Linked DNA regions of Homo sapiens. The protein of the gene in region 3 interacts with the protein of the main gene of each other region in a pairwise test. Each region holds a gene or a part of one and is shown on either strand. Other genes may lie near its edges.

Region 1 (3,658 bases), on a different chromosome or scaffold from region 3:
TTAAAAAATAGGCAAAGGACTCGAATAGACATTTCTTCAAAGAAAATATACAAATGGCCAAAAGCACATGAAAAGATGATTAACATCATTAGTCACTGGAGAAATGAAAATCAAAACCACAGGAAATAACACTTTACACTCACTAGAATGGCTGGAATCAGAAAGTCAGATAATAAGTGTTGGCAAAGATGTTGTGAAACTGGAACCTTCATACACTCCTGGTGGGAATGTAAAACAGTGAGCCACTTTGGCATACAGTCTGGCGGTTCCTCAAACAATTAAACACAAAGTGACCATATGACTCAGTAATTCCCCTCCTAGATACATACCAGAGAAAAATGAAAATATGTCCACACAAAAAACTTGTATATGAATGCTCATAGCAGCATTATTCATAATAGCCAAAAGGTAAAAACAACCCAAAGGTCCACTGAAGATGAATGAAAAACAAAATGCAGTCTGGTCTATCCACACAATGGAATAAAATTTGGTTATAAAAAGGCTGGCATGGTGGCTCATGTCTGTAATCCCAGCACTTTGGGAGGCCAAAGTGGGAGGATTGCTTAAGGCCAGGAGTTTGAAACCAGCCTGGGCAACACAATGAAACCTCATCTCTGTAAAAAAAAAAACACAAAAATTATCCAGGTGTGGTGGCATGCACCTGTAGTCTCAGCTACTCGGGAGGCTGAGGTGGGAAGATCACCTGAGCCTGGGAGGTTGAGGCTGCAGTGAGTCGCGATCACGTCACTGCACTCTAGCCTGGGTGACAGAGTGAGACCCTGTCTCTAAAAAGAAAAAAAGGAATGAAATACTGATACCTGCTACAACATGGATGAACCATGAAAACATTCAGCTAAGTGAAAGATGCCAGTTACAAAAGACCACATATACAATTCCATTTACATGAGACGTTCAGAGTAGAAAAATTTTAGAGACAGAAGATTAGTGATTGCTTAGGACTGGAGGGATGAGTGGTAGGGAGGTGACAGCTAAAAGGTATGGAATTTCTTTCTGAAATGATGAAAATGTTCTCAAGTTGACTGTAGTAATGGTTGGACAACTCTGGAAATATACTAAACTCCATTGAATTGTACCCTTGAAATGGGTGAACAATACGGCATATGAACTGCATCTCAATGAAGCTTTAAAAAATAATACAGTGGGAAGAAAAAGTCTGGCAACTTCTGACTGTCTCCTCAGCCCCCACTAGTCTCTTTTAGCCAGAAAATCCTATCATTCAATCCTCACAACAGCATCAATACCCATCATCTTCACCTACAATTTCCTTCCGTGTTCCTTTTCCCAACTCATACACACACAGCCATTCTCTGTTGCTTGAGAAAGTAAGCATGGGGCAATAGCCACAGCCTTCTTCTTTTTTTTTTTTTTTTTTTTTTTTTTTTTGAGAGGAGTCTCGCTCTGTCACCCAGGCTGGAGTGCAGTGGCTCGATCTCGGCTCACTGCAAGCTCCGCCTCCCGGGTTCACGCCATTCTCCTGCCTCAGCCTCTCTGAGTAGCTGGGACTACAGGCACCCGCCACCACGCCCGGCTGATTTTTTGTATTTTTTAGTAGAGACGGGGTTTCACCGTGGTCTCGAACTCCTGACCTCGTGATCCGCCCGCCTCAGCCTCCCAAAGTGCTGGGATTACCAGCGTGAGCCACCGCGCCCGGCCAGCCACAGCCTTCTTGTAGCTGGAAAGTGAGTTTTAAAAACCAGCAGGACATCAAGCAGAGATGTCCACCAAACAATAGGAAATTCAGGGCAGAGGCAGCAAAGAATGGTTAAAGAGGTGAGATGGGCAGACGGGAAAAACTCTGTCAGGTCTCAGTACTCTAGCTAACATCCTGACTTGTGCATGCGGAGGACAGGGCCAGACCACTCTCTTACCGACAGGGGCCAGCTGATACAGGTGAGCACGCGGTAGAAGCGGAAGAGGTGGACCAGGTAAAAGGCGAGGATCATTATCAAGTCGCAAATGGTGACCACTTCAAAGTAGCTGTAGGCGCTGTAGTTGGTCCACAGGGAGCTCCGCACACAGATGAAGGCAATCAGCAGGGTGACCTGCCACATAAATAGAGACATCAGAGAAATGCTTGCCCAAGACGGGCACCCAGGGAACAAACAACGGAAAACAACCAAGCATCCCCCAGCAGGCCCACATTGAAGAACTGCTATTAATACAATTCAGGTTATTTCCATACACACTGGCTGGAAGGTTGGAAGACTGCAACTTCATGTGGTACACACTTTGAAACTACTGTCTGTGAACACTGATGACAGCAGAGACTGACTTCGTCCTCTCTGAAGTTTGTTAGATTGTGCCAGCGGGAAGCCCCCTCAGAAGAAGCAGGAAAACAAGAAAATAACAAAGCAGAACCATCCCTTTCATCTGCTGGATATCCATAGAGCAAAGAGGACAGCGTGATGGTGACCTGGGGTTTACATATTAGGCCCAATTGTACGAAGTTGCCAATATTTGATGGTTTTTGACCTACAAAGATGGTAATTCATACCTTACAGCTATCAACTGACAGATAACAAGTTACCATTTACTGATGTCTGACATACGTGATCTCGCTAAGGCCATGCAGAACCCTGCCAGGTAGACAAAATCATCCCCATGTTCATAAGGGGAAACGGAGGCATGCAGGTTCAATCATCAGTCCAAGGCTATCTGGCTTGTAAGCAGAAGTGGGATTTGAATCCAGGTCTGTCTGACTCTAAGGACCATGTTCCTCCATGTCAGATGCAGTTCTACCTCCCAAAAGTGTAAGCTCTGATCATAACAAGCCGAGAAAGGTGGACGGGTTCTCAACCATGCAGGAATCCTGTTTAAGAGGTGAGGCTGCTCACCATCAGGGCATGTGGTGAGAGCTCACTAAGAAATATCTCAGCACGAGTGAACATGCTTAACGGCCTGCTACTGAATTAATAACCAGATGAAAACTATTAGCAATGCATGAGTACAAGAAAGTAGAATGAGTAACAGTCTGAGCTTCCGTGAAGGCCAAAGAGAAAACCTGTCTACTCCATGTAGGGAACAAACCAGTAACACACGGGATTCAATGTGTGTAAAATCTTAGAATCTACTTATTTATTTAGTTATTTAGTTTTTGTTTTTCTGAGATAGAGTCTGGCTCTGTTCCCCAGGCAGGAGTGCAGTGAACCAATCTCAGCTCACTGCAACCTCTGCTTCCTGGGCTCAAGTCATCCTCCCACCTTAGCTTCTCAAGTAGCTAGGATTACAGGCGTGTGCCATCATGCCTGGCTAATTTTCATATTTGTAGTAGAGACGGGGTTTTGCCATGTGGCCCAGGCTGGTTTCAAACTCCTGAGCTCAAGCAATCCCCCTGCCTTGGCCTCCCAAAGTGCTGGGATTATGGACGTAAGCCATTGTTTCCAGCCAGGAATCTATTTAAAATGCACAACCAATTTAGAAAAAAGATTATTTTATACACTGCCTCTCTCCTATGGAGGAGTGATTCTTTTTTTTTTGAGATGGAGTCTCACTCTGTTGCCCAGGCTGGAGTGCAGTAGCATGATCTTGGCTCACTGCAACTCTGCCTACGAGATTCAAGCGATTCTCTTGCCTCAGCCTCCAGAGTAGCTGGGACTACAGGTATGCACCACCATGCCCAGCTAATTTTTGCATTTTT
Region 2 (3,658 bases), on a different chromosome or scaffold from region 3:
ATCAGACAAACGGATTAACAAAATGTGGCACACATACACAACAGAGTATTATTCAGCCATAAAAAAAGAATGAGATCCTATCATTTGCAACAGCACGGATGAACTGGAGGACATTTTATTAACTGAAATAAACTAGACACAGAAAAGAAAAGTTTACATATTCTCACTCATTTGTGGGAGCTAAAGTTTAAAACAACTGAACTCATGGAGATAAGAGAGTAGAATTTTGGTTACTGGAGGATGGGAAGGGTAGTGGGGGTGGGAGAAAGGGTGATGGTTAATGGGTACATAATATAGTTAGCTAAAATGAATAAGATTTAGTACTTGATACCACAATAGGGTGACTACAGTCAACAATAATTTATTGTACATTTAAAAATTAACAGAGCACAACTGACATGTTTATAACACAAAGAAATAATAAATGCTTGAGGTGATGAATACCCCATTTACCCTAATGTGATTATTACACATTGCATACCTGTATCAAAATATCTCATGTACCCCATAAATATATTACACACCGAATATGTACCCATGAAAATTAACTTTTTTTAATTTTAAATTTAAAAAAATGTTTTTCTAGCAAAGAGATCCTCTGAGGTTGCTATTTGAAAGTATTTTCCCGATTAGTCACACATCTGGTAGCTTACTTTATAAATCACTGAAAGGATTGCTTTGAACTTCTATATTCTCTCATGTACTTGATTTAAAATATTAGAATAAAGTAATTCATTTTCAAGAGTTTCTCAGTTTTTCCCAAGGATTTTTTTAAAATAAAATAACTGAGATCCAGAACTCACCAGAAGAAATCTTACCAGCACCTTTACAGTCAACAGAAAATGCTGATGTGACTCCATTGGCTGACCCCAGTTCGCACATGGAAATTTGATAAGGAGGCCTCAGCTTGATTTCCGTCTGCATGTCAGAAAGATTTATCTTTGTTGAAAGAGACCTGGGATTATTATATCGCTGCTTGGTCCTCTGAATGAAGTTATCTATGTAAAATAAAAAATAAATTTCCTTGCAGTCACTTGTCAATTAATCATTTCAGAATATGATGTTTATGGATAGTAAATATTACAGGTAGTTTATTATTCAAAATTGTTCAATTCGTCATGAAATAGTCCAATATTACTTGTGTTTAATGATTAATGTATCATGGAATCATCAGTTTTACCCTCTAGAAATCAGTAATTTTAAATAAACTAAGGATTTAACACTACCTAAGTGTATTACATCCACTTCAAGAAATTACAAAAACAAAAAACAGCTTTAACTTTAAACCAAAGTCTTGAATTTTTTTTTTTGAGACAGGGTCTTGCTCTGTCACCTAGACTGGGGTGCAGTGGTACAATCATAGCTCACTGTAACCTCAAACTCCTGTGCTCAAGTGATCCTTCTGCCTCAGTCTCCCAAGCAGCTGGGGCTACTGGTGTGAGCCACCATGCCCAGTTTATTTATTTATTTTTGTACAGACAGGGTCTATGTTGCCCAGGGTGGTCTCGAACTCCTGGCCTTAAGTGATCCTACTGCCTCGGCCTCCCAAAGTGCTGGGATAAAAGGCATGAGCCACACCACACCTGGCCCAAAGTCTTGATTTTTATAGAGATTCCTATCTCATGAAATATTAAATCTGTCAGATTTACCAGCTGCAATTACATAAGAACACACACTAGAAGTTGCATGTTTTTATAAATCTGTTTTTTATTGCTTACACCATTAGAATGTAGGTTTTAAAGAATAAATTGAATAAAACTAACATAAGACATTTCCTAAATATTTTCCAAGTGGAATTTTATTTTTACTATTTACAACATGGTGTTTTTTTTTTTTCTTCTACATCAGAAGTTGAGCAAACTACTGCCCACAGGCCAAATCTAGCCTGCTGACTATTCTGTAAAGTTTTATTAGAATATAACTGCACTCATTTACGTACTGCCTATGGCTGCTTTCGAGCTACAACGGCAGGGCTGAATAGTTGTGACAGGGACTATATGATCCTTAAAGTCTAAAATATGTACTATCTGGTCCTTTCCAGCAAATGTTTGCCATCCCCTATTCTACATGAAGCAGACTATAAAAGATTATTACAGAAACGCAAAAGTCTGAATCTCTGGCTTATAAATTTCTCATTGAGAAGTTATCCTCTGGCATTAATTCTTCGGACCAATACTCACAATCCCCTTCACAGCTCAAACACAATTTTTTTCTAATAAGCATCTAAGTAAAAAGTTACCATAATTTATAGATCATTTACCAAATTATTATATCAAAAGCAAGATAGCAGAAGTCCCCCCTCCACCCAATATTAGATTTAAAATTGCTTATGATTGGATGCAGACAGAATAAAAAGGAAAAAAAAATCAGGCCCTTACCAAATTCAATGAAACAGTATGGTCTGACAGCAGTATTTGTCTTCATCATGTTATAAGTAGTAATGAACTCCTTCTGAAGCTCATCCAGGAAAGAGAAGGCGAGAACATTTGGGTAATTTTCAGTGCACAACATCATGTAGCTCACTCCCAGAGAGCTAATAAAACTACAGTGTAAAAAACATTGGTTTTAAAATTTCAAATTAAATCAAGGTAATTCACTGCTTCACAAGACTGGTTCTATACACCATAAACTGCTACTACGGTGGCAATGAAGATCTTAACATTTATTATATATTCTAGGAAAAAATTTAAAGGAACCAAAATACAGCACTATTTTAAGTTGTGGTTTAAAAACAGAAGACAAAAAATAGAATGTACTACAGAGGGACACACAATACGGTTCTAACATTTCAGTTATCACTTGGGGTAAAAAGCAGGGGAATGGATATACAAATGTATTGTAAGTATTACAGATAGCTTAAAGTCTAACCCTTCAATATGTTTTCCACTTTTGAGTCCAGAACCCTTTCAAGATTCTGATGACAGGAACACTCTCCCTAGAAAGATGCCAGAACACAGAAGATTGCACACAATTTCAAGGTGATCACTGACCTCTTGAAGTTATCATTGACACACCCCAGAATCAAATCCTCTACTTTACACAGTAATTAATTATGAACCATGGGAGGGGGGAATTTATGAGTTTATATAAAAAACAAAAGGAGAAATGAGGGCTATGGCTTAAAGCAGAATGCTGAGTGTTGACTGGTAAACGTAGAGGAAGTGCTAGCAATGGAAAAATCAGCATTTTGCAACCAACATAGTAAAGATTGGATCAGGCAAGGACAATCATGGATGTTAAATCTAGGGGGAAATTTTTACGGGTTAGTATATTTGCATGGTTTTAAAATGTCTTTCCATGGATTGTTTCTTAGTTGCAAGGGGAAAATATTATACAGTAGAAACTAGGTAACTCCTTCACCAAGTACTCTCTAACATCATTCATGTTAGATGGACATTGTGTGTCTCCAGATGTTATATCCTGAGAAAGACACATCAGCTATATAATATTCTGAGAATGCATAATTTGAATTTAATCATTAAGAAAACACCAAAATGATCAACATTCTATTTTTGAAAAGGAAAAAGTGTATTCTTTAAAAGTGCCAGGGTTGTAAAAAAGAAATAAAGGATGTGGAAATGTTGCCAATCAAAAGAAGCTAAAGAGGCCGGGCATGGTGGGGGCCTGTAATCCCAGCACTTTGGGAGGCCGAGGTGGG
Region 3 (3,658 bases):
CAATTAGCCTGACTGCAGTTTTTGAAAGACAGATTCTAGTAGGTAAAATGCACAATCGCTCCTGATTTTTTACAAACAAAGAAACAAAACCTGTTTTACACCCTGGCAGAATACATTTTTTATTAATCCTTCCTTTTTTTGATACCAAAAAAAGAAAATATTACTCACCAGGCCTTTTGTAGTTCTAATTCCTGCTGCAATTGACAAGGATCCTGAAATAATAAACTAAAAATGAGAGAAAAAATGAAGGTAAAAAACTTTAAGCCAGTATTGGGAGTCATAACTTACTAAACTTAATTCTAAATTAGATAGATATGTTAATCAGACCAATTATCTTAAAGAAAACCACAAAGGTTTGCACATTATTTTCCCTTTTCCCAGAAAGAACAGAGAAATAATACCAGATAAATCCATGGGAGAATTTATCAAGTTTTTCAAATATCTAACTGAAATGATATTAAAACTGTTTGAGGGCACTAAAAGATAGTTTCCAAACTCCTGATACAAAGTAATTCTTACATGGTACCAAAATTGATGACTATATTTAAACAAAAAATACACTAAAATTATTCTCATTTAGAATTTTTTTTTTTTTTTTTTTTTTTTTTTTGAGACGGAGTCTCGCTCTGTCGCCCAGGCTGGAGTGCAGTGGGGCAATCTCGGCTCACTGCAAGCTCCGCCTCCCGGGTTCACGCCATTCTCCTGCCTCAGCCTCCCGAGTAGCTGGGACTACAGGAGCCCGCCACTACGCTGGGCTAATTTTTTGTGTTTTTAGTAGAGACGGGGTTTCACCGTGTTAGCCAGGATGGTCTTGATCTCCTGACCTCGTGATCCGCCCGCCTCGGCCTCCCAAAGTGCTGGGATTACAGGCGTGAGCCACTGCGCCCGGCCAATATTTTTAAACTTATAAGCAAAATAGTAGCAAAAAAATGTAAATTCCCAATTAGATGATGACTAGAATATAGTAGTTCATTTGATTCCATCAATAGGCAATTATTTTTCATTTAGCTAAAATAACTAGTCAAGTTGGTTAGACTCTCTATCTTTTAATATTCAATTGTTGGAGTTTTTAATTTGCTTTTCAAATTTGATTTCAGATGATTCAAAGATTATATCATAATATAAAAAATACAGAACTAATAAAAAAGCTCAATAAATTTATTTAACTTCCAAATACCCAGACATAGAGATGATTCATGATATCTAAATCACCACTGGAATAAAACCACTAGAGGGAATCACCCATCATATGATATAAAATACATCATGAACATTTGGGATGTTCCTTCAGCTCTACAAACATTTTTTAATATTGAAATATTCTAATTTACACAATTAATGAATTTAAGAAAAAAATTACATGCTTATTGCTATTCATGTTTACAGTGTTGATAGGCTAGGACATTTAATACAATTCAACATTATTAGTAACTGCAACATTACTGGTAAAATATAAAGAATTATTGGCAGGGCGTGGTGGCACACGCTTGTAATCCCAGCACTTTGGGAGGCTGAGGCGGGTGGATCACGAGACCAGGAGATCGAGACCACAGTGAAACCCCGTCTGTACTAAAAATACAAAAAAATTAGCCGGGTGTGGTGGCGGGTGCCTGTAGTTCCAGCTACTTGGGAGGCTGAGGCAGGAGAATGGTGAGAACCCGGGAGGCGGAGGTTGCAGTGAGCCGAGATCGTGCCATTGCACTCCAGCCTGGGTAATAAGAGCGAAACTCTGTCTCAAAAAACCAAAAACCAAAAACCAAAAAAAAAAAAAAAAAAAGAATTGTAATTTCTGTAACATGATAGAAATCTGTCTCAGTCTAAAAGTCTTTATTATGTTTAATGATAAAAATGTAGGATCATTTCATTAAAGTCAAAATCAAGATAAAGATGCTGACTATTATGTAATACTATTCTGGGTATATTTACCAAAATAATTACATAAGAAAAATAGTTGGAACAAGTGGTTTAACTATTCTTATTTAAGTATGAACAATATATATTGCAAACATTCAAGAACGTGAACTAAAAATTACCATAAACTATTCTAAAAATTCAATAAGGCACCTTGGAAAAACATTCTATACAGAAATTATATATACACATTACAAGTGTGTATGTATGTCTGTGTATTTGAAGATGGGATTGAATAAGAGGACTTCATTTGCCACAGGAAAAAGTATGTATGTACTATCTCAGAGGAAAAAACAAGGAATGTGAAACATATACAGAAACAGAACTGAAGAGGCCAAAAATAAGAGGAACTTGTGACTGGTTCTTGGTATTGGTACTTATACTGTATGAAAGAGAAAAAGGAGGCACTTCATAGAAGAGGTTTGGAAAAAAAGGTTGAAAGAATAATGGAAGGTAGCCGCAGAAAAGAGTTCACCAATTAAGTAAAGGCTCATCTAATGGAACACCTACGAAAGTCTCAGTGATGTCTCAGCGGACAAATGGCTCCTGCAGTTCCTGGTAATCTACTGAACATGTGTGGAAGGCTTGCACCATGTAAGCTGGTTTTTAATGTGATCTTGAAAAGGAAACGGAAATAAAAACAGAAAACTAAGTAGTTAGATGTATGCAATTCTGAAAATACATTGACCCTATTTGAATCTTCATTCCTGTACCAAGCAGTTGTGATGTTGGGTTAGTTACTTAACCTCTCTTCATCCATAAAATGATTATAATGAAAAATCAGAAGTTCGTGGTGATTGTTTGAAATGAAATTGCACATATAAAGCACTAAGTAGAGTGTCCACATGATAGTAAGAGTTTAATAAGAGCTGTTATTGGCATCAGTATTTTTGGATATATGAAGTATTGTGCAGCTTTCTAGAAGTAAAACACAGCTTTACTGTTCTTCCAATCTTGCACTTCTGCTGTAAACAGGTGAAGGGGATCAAAAAGCAAGCTCTTCTATAAAACTCTACACTACCTCATTCTCAGTTTTAGAAATAAATGGAAACCCTGCAATGCTAGAATAGATTCCCTGATTCTAACATAAACCCAACTTATAAATTTTATTTTTCTCTCTTCAATGGATAAAACTTGGTATTTTATTCTCAATTTTACTCTCAATTTGCATTAAAACTATCTTGTGTTTTCTCTTGGGAGAAGGTTTTTAAATTTAAATTCCAATTCTAATTTTAATGTAATATTAATAATAGTTATAATTAATTTAATATTAATTATAATAATTAGTTATTTTATTGAATTTATGAAACAAAATATATCAAATAACATTTTCATTTTCTGAGGTAACAATTTCCTGAGTTTCGATAGTCAGTAGACTAGATATTAGAAACTGCTTGTGTACCAGCCACATCTCCTCTTCTTCCTTGCTAACTAAACCATCATTTTGTTCAGTTTCTCATGAGCTAAAGGTAGGGTAGACTCCTCCCAGCTACAGAGGTAAATCTTGATTAGTCCAAGCCAATAATGGCAAGTCCGTTATCCTTACTGACAGTTGATTTGGGAATATGTATATGAAATATTTACCAAAAGTTGGATGTGTCAACCATCTCCCCTCTGATGTGGTCTGCTAGCAATCCTTGATGAAATCCTTGCACCACTGAATGAAGCCATCCTAGAAATGATAAGCCACTAGTCTTGTTGTGAAATAATCAGTGCTTCCAATGTTTAAGCCATTCTGGTTTGGGTC

What was found.
Region 1: the proteins of MS4A4A (region 3) and CMTM7 interact in a two-hybrid assay, tested with the Homo sapiens proteins (one large-scale study listed by BioGRID and IntAct).
Region 2: the proteins of MS4A4A (region 3) and SEC22A interact in binary tests that used the Homo sapiens proteins (3 or more experiments, as listed by UniProt).

Annotation. Positions count from the first base shown.
Region 1 is NC_000003.12:32,440,245-32,443,902, reverse strand, and holds part of CMTM7 (CKLF-like MARVEL transmembrane domain-containing protein 7), read right to left. Parts: intron 2,064-3,658; coding exon 1,890-2,063; intron 1-1,889.
Region 2 is NC_000003.12:123,222,443-123,226,100, reverse strand, and holds part of SEC22A (vesicle-trafficking protein SEC22a), read right to left. Parts: intron 2,543-3,658; coding exon 2,379-2,542; intron 999-2,378; coding exon 804-998; intron 1-803. UniProt on the Homo sapiens protein: May be involved in vesicle transport between the ER and the Golgi complex.
Region 3 is NC_000011.10:60,297,568-60,301,225, reverse strand, and holds part of MS4A4A (membrane-spanning 4-domains subfamily A member 4A), read right to left. Parts: intron 226-3,658; coding exon 169-225; intron 1-168.